2 separate regions of the Homo sapiens genome follow, and region 1 is linked to region 2. The links come from fine-mapping of genetic effects on gene expression. A gene starts in region 2. The other region holds a variant in brackets. All regions are shown on one strand. Distances are from middle to middle. Region 1 overlaps QPCTL (glutaminyl-peptide cyclotransferase like). Region 2 holds the start of SYMPK (symplekin scaffold protein).

Evidence for each region. PIP is the estimated chance that this variant, and not a neighbour inherited with it, causes the effect. A credible set is the group of variants that fine-mapping cannot tell apart.
Region 1: its variant is the best candidate, but not a certain one, in a credible set for the expression of SYMPK in caudate (GTEx, PIP 0.60).

Annotation. Positions count from the first base shown.
Region 1 is chr19:45,702,615-45,706,997 of GRCh38, reverse strand. It overlaps QPCTL (glutaminyl-peptide cyclotransferase like), which reads right to left. Exons shown (of 7, transcript NM_017659.4): 7 at 3,011-4,094. The coding sequence ends at 3,949. Among named protein-coding and RNA genes, the nearest start is that of QPCTL, 12 kb to the right of the region's middle. RefSeq lists an enhancer at 1-68. The variant T/G (reference allele first, on the strand shown) is at 2,446.
Region 2 is chr19:45,861,191-45,865,573 of GRCh38, reverse strand. It overlaps SYMPK (symplekin scaffold protein), which reads left to right and starts at 2,427. Exons shown (of 27, transcript NM_004819.3): 1 at 2,427-2,516. FOXA3 (forkhead box A3) reads right to left here and starts at 1,248. Exons shown (of 2, transcript NM_004497.3): 1 at 1,049-1,248. The coding sequence starts at 1,117. RefSeq lists a silencer at 1,053-1,462 and enhancers at 2,103-2,512, 2,764-3,402.

The DNA.
Region 1 (4,383 bases), 160 kb after region 2:
TCATTCTGTCACCCAGGCCGGAGTGCAGTGACACAATCATAGCTGACTGTAACCTCAAACTCCTGGGCTCGGGAGATCCTCCTGCCTCAGCCTCCCAAGTAGCTGGGACCACAGGCACCATACTAGCTAATTTTAATTTTTTTTGTAGAGACAGGGTCTTTGTTGCCCAGGCTGGTCGGGAACTTCTGGGCTCAAACAGTCCTCCTGCCTCAACCTTCCAAAGGACTGGGATTACAGGGGTGAGTGACCGCACCCAGCCACAGGTACTTTTTGGAAGGGAGATAGGACATGGGGGTTGCGAGCACAGCTGTGAGTGAAAATTTGCACACCATACACAACTCGTTTGCAATTCTCAGTCTCAGCCACCTCACCTGCAAAATGAGAACTGAAATTGTACCTATTTCAGGATTTGTAGTCAGGGAGACTACATAGTTTTGTATATGTAAAAAAAAAAAGTTCTCATGGGCTGGGCACGGTGGCTCACGCCTGTAATCTCAGCACTTTGGGAGGCCAAGGCGGGTGGACACCTGAGGTCAGGAGTTCAAGACCAGCCTGGCCAACATGGCAAAACTCATCTCTACTAAATATGCAAAAATTGGCCAGGCATGGTGGCTCGATGCCTGTAATCTCAGCACTGTGGGAGGCCGAGGCAGGTGGATCACCTGAGGTTAGGAGTTCAAGACCAACCTGATCAACATGGTCCCATCTCTACTAAAAAGTACAAAAATTAGCAGGGCATGGTGGCAGGTGCCTGTATTCCCAGCTACTTGGGAGATTGAGGCAGGAGAATCGCTTGAACCCAGGAGGTGGAGTTTGTAGTGAGCTGAGATCTCGCCATTGTACTCCAGCCTGGGCGACAGAGTAAGACTCTCTCCCCCAAACCAAGAAAATACAAAAATTAGCTGGGCATGGTAGCACATGCCTGTAATCAGCTACTCCAGAGGCTGATGAAGAAGAATCGCTTGAACCCAGGAGGTGGAGGTTGCAGTGAGCCGAGATTGTGCCACTGCAACTCCAGCCTGGGTGACAAGAGCGAAACTCCATCTTAAAAAAAAAAAAAAGTTCTCATGATGCCTGGCACATAGTAGATGCTCAATAAATGTCAGCGAATGTGGAAGAACCTAAATTGAGGACCTATGTTTATCCTCTCATTTGATACCCCGAGTTTCAGCCCTGGAGCTGATTTGGAGGGCAGATGCTCACCTACACAGCGTAGGACTGCTTCCAGGTGCCATCTGTCTCAGGTTTTTCTTTTGAGTCGGTTTGCTGAGCAGCTGTGTATGCACCAAAGTGTCTCCTTAAGGACAGCGTGGGCCAGGCACGGTGGCTCACGCCTGTAATCCCAGCATTTTGGGAGGCCGAGACAGGCGGATCACGAGGTCAGGAGATCGAGACCATCTTGGCTAACACGGTGAAACCCTGTCTCTACTAAAAATACAAACATTAGCCAGGCGTGGTGGCACGCACCTGTAGTCCTAGCTATTTGGGAGACTGAGGCGGGAGAATCGCTCGTACCCGGGAGGCGGAGGTTGCAGTGAGCCAGCATTGCAGCACTGCGCTCCAGCCTGGGTGACAGAGCGAGACTCCGCCTCAAAAAGAAAAACCTCCTGGGCTCAAGTGATCCTCCCACTTCAACCTCTCAAAGTGCTGAGATTGCAGCCATGAGCCACTGCACCCAGTCTGCATTTTTTAATGAGCACCCCAGCTGAGTCTGAAAATTAGGTAGGGTTGGGAAATACTTGCTCATTGGAGTTTGCAGTTACACTGCCATCTCACAGTGCTGTACCAACAGCTGAAGGGGAAAGACAGTGTGCCCTAACTACTCTGCGGTAAATCTAGATCTGTCTTACCCATTCCTCTCATAGATGCTCTCAGACTTTCAAAACCCCATGTTTTCCAAAGTACCTTCTGAGGTATCCTAGTTCTTTTTGTTGTTGTTGTATTTTGTTTGTTTGTTGAGACAGCCTCGCTCTATTGCCCAGGCTGGAGTGCAGTGGCGTGATTTTGGCTCACTGTAGCCTCTGCCACCAGGTTCCAACAATTCTCCTGTTTCAGCCTCCCAAGTAGCTGGGATTACAGGCTCATGCCACCACACCTGGCTAATTTTTGTATTTTTAGTAGAGATGGGGTTTCATCATGTTGTCCAGGCTGCTCTCGAACTCCTGAGCTCAGCTGAACTGCTGGCCTCGGCCTCCCAAAGTGCTGGGATTTCAGGTGTGACCCACCATGCCCGGCCGAAGTATCCTAGTTCTATGAAGTGCTTCCCAATAAAAAGTGTTCCATAGTGAAATACTTTGGGAGCCTCTGGGTTCTGTCTTAAAAATTCACATGATGCAGTGAGGAAACTCATTTTATGTTGTCTCACCCTCTTCTTGGATTTCAGATCCCCCTTGTCATGCAATGTCTATTTACACGAGTTCTACAGAATGGCCTTTTTTGTTGTTG[T/G]TGGTGGTGGTGGTGTTTGTTTTGAGACAGGGTGTCACTGTGTTGCCCAGGCTGGTCTTGAACTCTTGGGTTCATGGGATTCTCTCACCTCAGCCTCCTGAATAGCTGAGACTACAGGGTGTGCACCACCACACCTGGCTTATGCAGGTGGTGTTTTGCAGAAACATTGGTTACGCTTTTTTTTTTCTTTCTTTTTTCTGGAGAATGGGGTCATGCTCTGTTGCCCAGGCTGGTCTCAAACTCCTGAGCTCAAGCTATCCCTCTGCCTCTGACTCCCAAAGAGCTGGGATTACAGGTGTGAACCACCATGCCCAGCCAGAAACAATGGCTTATTACCCACTGGGTCTGGAAGAATCTGGACTTCCAAAATATGAGCTTCTGTCTCCTCTGTGCCTGGTTATGAGGACATCCTCTGTGTGCCCCGTGTGGGAGTTAGGTTAGGACTGGTGCAGTAGCAAGGCTGCTGTTCTGGAGAATGAACTGACACAACACAAACCACAGAGAATTCATCTAGCTGGGTGGCATCACTGGGCCAGACCAGTAATAGTCTTTTAGTCTTTTACTCTTTTTAAAAAATATTTATTTATTTATTTATTTATTGAGATGGAGTCTCGCTCTGTTGCCCAGGCTGGAGTGCAGTGGTGTGATCTTGGCTCACTGCAACCTCCGCCTCCTGCGTACAAGTGATTCTCCTGCCTCAGCCTCCCAAGCAGCTGAGATTACAGGCGCCCACCACCATGCCCAGCTAATTATTGTATTTTTAGTAGAGACAGGGTTTCGCCATGTTGACCAGGCTGGTCTCAAACTCCTGACCTCGGGTGATCCTTCCCCCTCAGCCTCTCAAAGTGTTGGGATTACAGGTGTGAGCCACCACACCCAGCAGTCTTTTACTTTTTCAGTTCGCTGACTTAAAGAACAGCATTTTGCCAGGTGCGGTGGCTCACACCTGTAATCCCAGCACTTTGGGAGGCCGAGGCTGGCGGATTACAAGGTCAGGAGATCGAGACCATCCTGGCTAACACGGTGAAACCCCGTCTCTACTAAAAATACAAAAAATTAGCCAGCGTGGTGGCGGGCACCTGTAGTCCCAGCTACTTGGGAGGCTGAGGCAGGAGAATGGCGTGAACCCAGGAGGCGGAGTTTGCAGTGAGCCGAGATCGCACCACTGCACTCCAGCCTGGGCAACACAGTGAGACTCCGTCTCAAAAAAAAAAAGAACAGTATTTGGTCCCTGCAAACCTTTGGACCAAGTGTTTACCTCTGGGGAGGGAGCAAGTTCTTATTCCTCTGGCTGTCATCCCACAGTGGTCTCTTCCCTGTCCTTGAAGGGTGGCAGCTTGAGACAATCAAAAGAAAGAAGGTCTTCCAATTGTAGCACAATTAGGAGACAAAGGTATGAAAAGGACAAACCAGCACACCCTAGGCAGATCCTGCCTGAGCTTCACTGGCCCCCGCTGGGACCTTCTCTCTCACAGTCCTCTCCACAGTCATTGGCCAAGCACGCTAGAGCCCCAGGTATTCAGCCAGGAACACAGCGAGAATGCGGCACAAGTTGTGTACCGTGGGTGGGTGGAGATTGACCTCGGTGTCCGCAGGGGTGTGCCAGACAGCAGGGAAGGGCGTGGAGATGAGATGGAGCACGGGTACCCCTGAAGTGACAGAGGAGACTTTGTCAGGTCCACTGCAGCCCACCACAACCCAGGAGCCCAAGCCCAACCTCTAGGTAACCTTGCCTTGCCACCACACACTGGTGAAAGATACTATGTTCTGGCACTTTTTTTTTTTTTTTGAGACAGAGTCTCACTCTGTCGCCCAGGCTGGAGTGCAGTGGCGTGATCTCGGCTCACTGCAGCCTCTGCCTCCCAGGTTCCAGCGATTCTACCGTCTTAGCCTCCCGGGTAGCTGGGATTATAGGCAGGCACCACGACACCTGTCTAA
Region 2 (4,383 bases):
GTCCCCTTCCAGGTTAGAAGTCCAAGTGTCCAGACCCCCATAATTCTCAGACCAAGAACCCAACCCCCAGCCCCAACAACCTCACAACGTTGATTACAGAGTGAGGTAGCTAAGGTGTAGGGGTCGTTGCAGCAAGACGAATGGGGGTCAGACTTGAGGAAGGACTTTCTGTCTGTCCAGGTGAGGGGATTAGAATATGCCGCCACCCCCCACTCCAGGGAAGCCTTGTCTGAGGTGAGACTGGATGGGAATTTTAGCAATAGCTGGAGGTTGCTGGACTGGCGGGGAGCAGGGGAAGGTGCACAATCTAAAACTCTCCATCTTCCGACTTGGGGAGTCCCTGCGGAGGGTCATGGGTAGGGATGGGGGGGTGGAGATCGGCCCCTCTCCTGCCAATGCTGATGGCTACATCTTCTGCTCCCAGATGCCCAACTCTAAGCCACCTGTTATTTCAGACTCCAAAAACGAAGCTTCATCTCTGAGCACCCCCATCTCTGACCCCTGAGCACCAATCCCTATGTCTGACCCTACCTTAGATTACCAGCTGATCCTTAGCCCCGAACCCCGGTTCTTTAACACTGTGTGCTGGCCCTGAGCTCCCACCTCAGTCTTCCCCTTAATGGTGACTCCTCCTCCATCTTTTAGTCTTTCTTTCCCTCCAACTTTGAACCTCACATCCTGAAACCCCCTAGTCTGTCCCCTACCCTGGAACTCTGATTCCTATCTTTGGTTTGTACATATAAATCCCTTGCTTTTTGGGGCTCCAACACCCGGCTCCCAAGTTTAAGGTGTGACCCGACCCTTGGCTAAATTTTCCTGACTTCCATTTTTAAGCCCTGGCCGCGGCGAGGCTGCCCAAACAGCGCTCCCATCCATGCCTCGTCCCCGGTCCCCGACTTCCACACCTGGTCTCCGTGTTCCCAGTTCCTCAGCTGCCCAAGTAGACGCCTTTGCCTCCATTTGAACCCACAACCAGTCCCTGCTCCATGTGAGCCCACACCCCGATACCTGCCCCCAACTTCCCGCTCCGCCATCCCCGAGGACACACCTCGCCCGCCTCCGGGTAGTAGCTCCACTCGGCCAGGTCATGGGCCTCCATCTTCACTGAGCCCAGCATCCCCCGGGCTTACGCCCCCACCCGCCCCCGCTCCGGCCCCGGGGGAACGGAGCGCTCTGGATCTCTCAGCGGGCACGGCCCGAGCTCCCACCGGCGCCCGCCCGTCCGACCGCCCGGGGTACGGCTGTCCCGAGCGCCGCGGGAGGCGGCCACGCTTTATAGCCGGGACACCCCCGCCCTCGCCCGCCCCGGGCTCCCCTCCCGCCTCCCCGAGGGCGGCGCGCTCGGACTGGGGCGCCCCCTGCGGGATCGCCAGGAGACAGACCTCAGGCGCCGGGGGCCGCAGCCCCAGGACGCGACAGCTGGGGGTGATTCAGGAGTGAGGGAGCTGCCCGCAGCGACGCTGCAGATACCAAGGGCCCCGAGGTCAGAACTCTGGAGCCTTTCTACCTCAGGGGGCTTCATCATCTCGGCAGGAGAGGACGAAGAGCCAGAGCCCTGCATGACCGTGGCGGAAGAAAGGGGAATCAGAACGCTAGGGCCACTATGCGACTACAAGGACCCGTAAAAGGTCCCCGAAATCACATCCCCATTGGACAGACAGGAAGACTGAGGCTTCCGACGGCTAGAAATGCTTAACTTGGCCGGGCGCGGTGGCTCACGCCTGTAATTCCAGCACTGCAGGAGGCCGAGGCGGGCGGACGAATCACTTGAGGTCAGGAGTTTGAGACCAGCCTGGCCAACAGGGTGAAACCCCATCTCTATTAAAAATACAACAACTAGCTAGGCGTGATGGTGCGTGCCTGTTATCCCAGCTATTCGGGAGGCTGAGGCAGGAGAATCGTTTGAACCTAGGAAGCGGAGGTTGCAGTGAGCCGAGATCGCGCCACTGCAGTCCAGCCTGGGAGAGAGAGCGGGACTCCGTTTCCAAAAAAAAAGAAAGAAAGAAAAGAAAAGAAAAAGAAATGCTTCAGACTGTTGAAAGGGTCAAGAACAAAGATGGAGGGGATCGGGGCCTCTCCGCAGACCCCACTAGGGCAACAGACCACCTCCCCTCCAAGACCCAGGAGCTTCGCTGCCCGAACTCCGCACTCTCCAAGACCAGCCAGCCGTCCAGGGACTCAGCACCACTGAGAACTCCATTTCCCAGAATGCTCTAGCTCCCTTTCCGCCCGGTGCCTCCGAAGGGACTACATTTCCCAGAAGGCCTAGCCGGACCCAGAGCCGGAAATGAAGGGTCTGCTCGCCGTAGTATGGAGGCGGGCAGAATGCCGCTCGCACGGGACGAGGCATGGGCGGGGTCGGGCTGTGCTCTGGACTCCATTTCCCGGCGGCCCTGGGTGTGTGGCGCGTGCGCACCGTTCCCGGCGACGAACGGAAGATGGCGGCGGCGGCGGCGGCGGAGTGTAGGAAGAGGCACTGCTGAGGGGGCGCGAGGGGAACGGAGGCCAGAGCTGCGGTGAGCGGGAGGCGGCGTTTGGGCCCGGAGACGAAAGGAGGAGGCTCCTAAAGAAGCAGGGGCTCGGGCGGGGAGGGCATCGCCGTGGGGAGAGGGGAACAGTGGCTTTCGCGACCCATGTTTCTTCCCTTGCTCAGGACCCTTCCTTGGCTCCCTAGTGCCCTCGAGGCAAAGTTCCAACGTGGCCCCCCGGGCGCCACCGCCCCGCAGACCTCGCTTGCTTCGACTCGGCCTCTTTGCTTTTTCCCCCACCTCTAACAGCCGCCCTGGCCTTTCGGTTCCTTAAACTTGCCATGCGCTTTCCCGCTTCGGGGATTTTGCACAGGCTGTCCCTTCTGCCTGCAACATCCTTTTACCCATTCGGCTTGGCTAACTCCCATTTCATCCTTCGGGTCTCGGCACCAACGTCACTTCCTCTGCGAAGCCCTCCTTCCCTGCCCTCCATCCAGAAATCCGCCTGTTAAATGCTTTTGTCGGTCCGTGTTCCTTCATGTCACGTGTGGTCTAATTTGTTATCCGACTCTTATCTGTGTGCTGTTTTATGATGTCTATGACCGTGTGTTCCATGAAGGTAGGGACTAGGTTTGTCTCTGTCGCCACTGTGTTCTCAGCACAGCGCCAATCACGCCGGAGACGCCCAGCTAATGTTCGTTGAAGGAATAAAAGATACTCCTAGAGCCAGTTTGGGGAAACAGGGTAGTCATCAGATTCCTAGGTAGCAGTGGGGCAGGGTACCACTTCTTAACGAGTACATCGAGAGGGAAGGGGAAACAGTGATACTGTTCATCATAGCAAAAGGCTACACGCATCCCAAATGTTCTTAAATAAGAAGATTGGCTGAAAGAAACTATAATACATCCACATAAAAAATACTATGCAACTCTAAAAAGGAATGAGGTAGATAAAAGGAAATGATGAAAATCTCTATACACTGATATAGTGGCCTCCAACATATATTAAGGGAAAACAAGTGAAGTGGAGGTTGGTGTTTATTGTATATGCTTTTTCTTTTTTTTTTTTTTTGAGACAGGGTCTCACTCTGTCGCCCAGGCTGGCACGATCCCAGTTCACTGCAACCTCCACCTCCCTGGTTCAAGTGATTCTCCCACCCCAGCCTCTCGAGTAGCTGGGATTACAAACGTGCCCCACCACACCCAGGTAATTTTTATATTTTTAGTAGAGACGGGGTTTCTCTGTGTTGGCCAGGCTGGTCTTGAACTCCTGACCTCAAGTGATCTGCCCACCTCAGCCTTCCAAAGTGCAGGGATTACAGGCCTGAGCCACCAAACTCGGCCTGTGTAGGCTCCTTTTTTTTTTTTTTGAGACAGAGTCTCACTCTGTCACCCAGGCTGGAGTGCAGTGGCGTGATCTCGGCTCACTGCAACCTCTGCCTTCCAGGTTCAAGCAATTCGCCTGCCTCAGCCTCCCAGGTAGCTGGGATTACAGGCACACCACCACGCCTGGCTAATTTTTGTATTTTTAGTAGAGATGGGGTTTCACCATGTTGGTCAGGCTGGTCTTGAACTCCTGACCTCGTGATCCACCTGCCTCCGCCTCCCGAAGTGCTGGGATTACAGGCGTGAGTCACCGCTCCCGGCCCTGTGTATGCTCTTTTTGTAAATGAAAGGGAAATATGTATATATGGGTTTTTTTATTTTCATTTTTTTTCCTTTTTTTGCATAAAATCTAGCTCCTGCAGGAGAATTTTGTGTATGTGTGTTTAAAAAAGAACAAAACAAAACTGAAAGCATAAACCAAAAAGCAGAAGAAGAATGAAACAGGGTAAAATATTTTGGTTGATCTGAATGTATTATCATGAAAAAAGTGGAAATGTTTATTATGGGGTTTTATTTTATTTTATTTTATT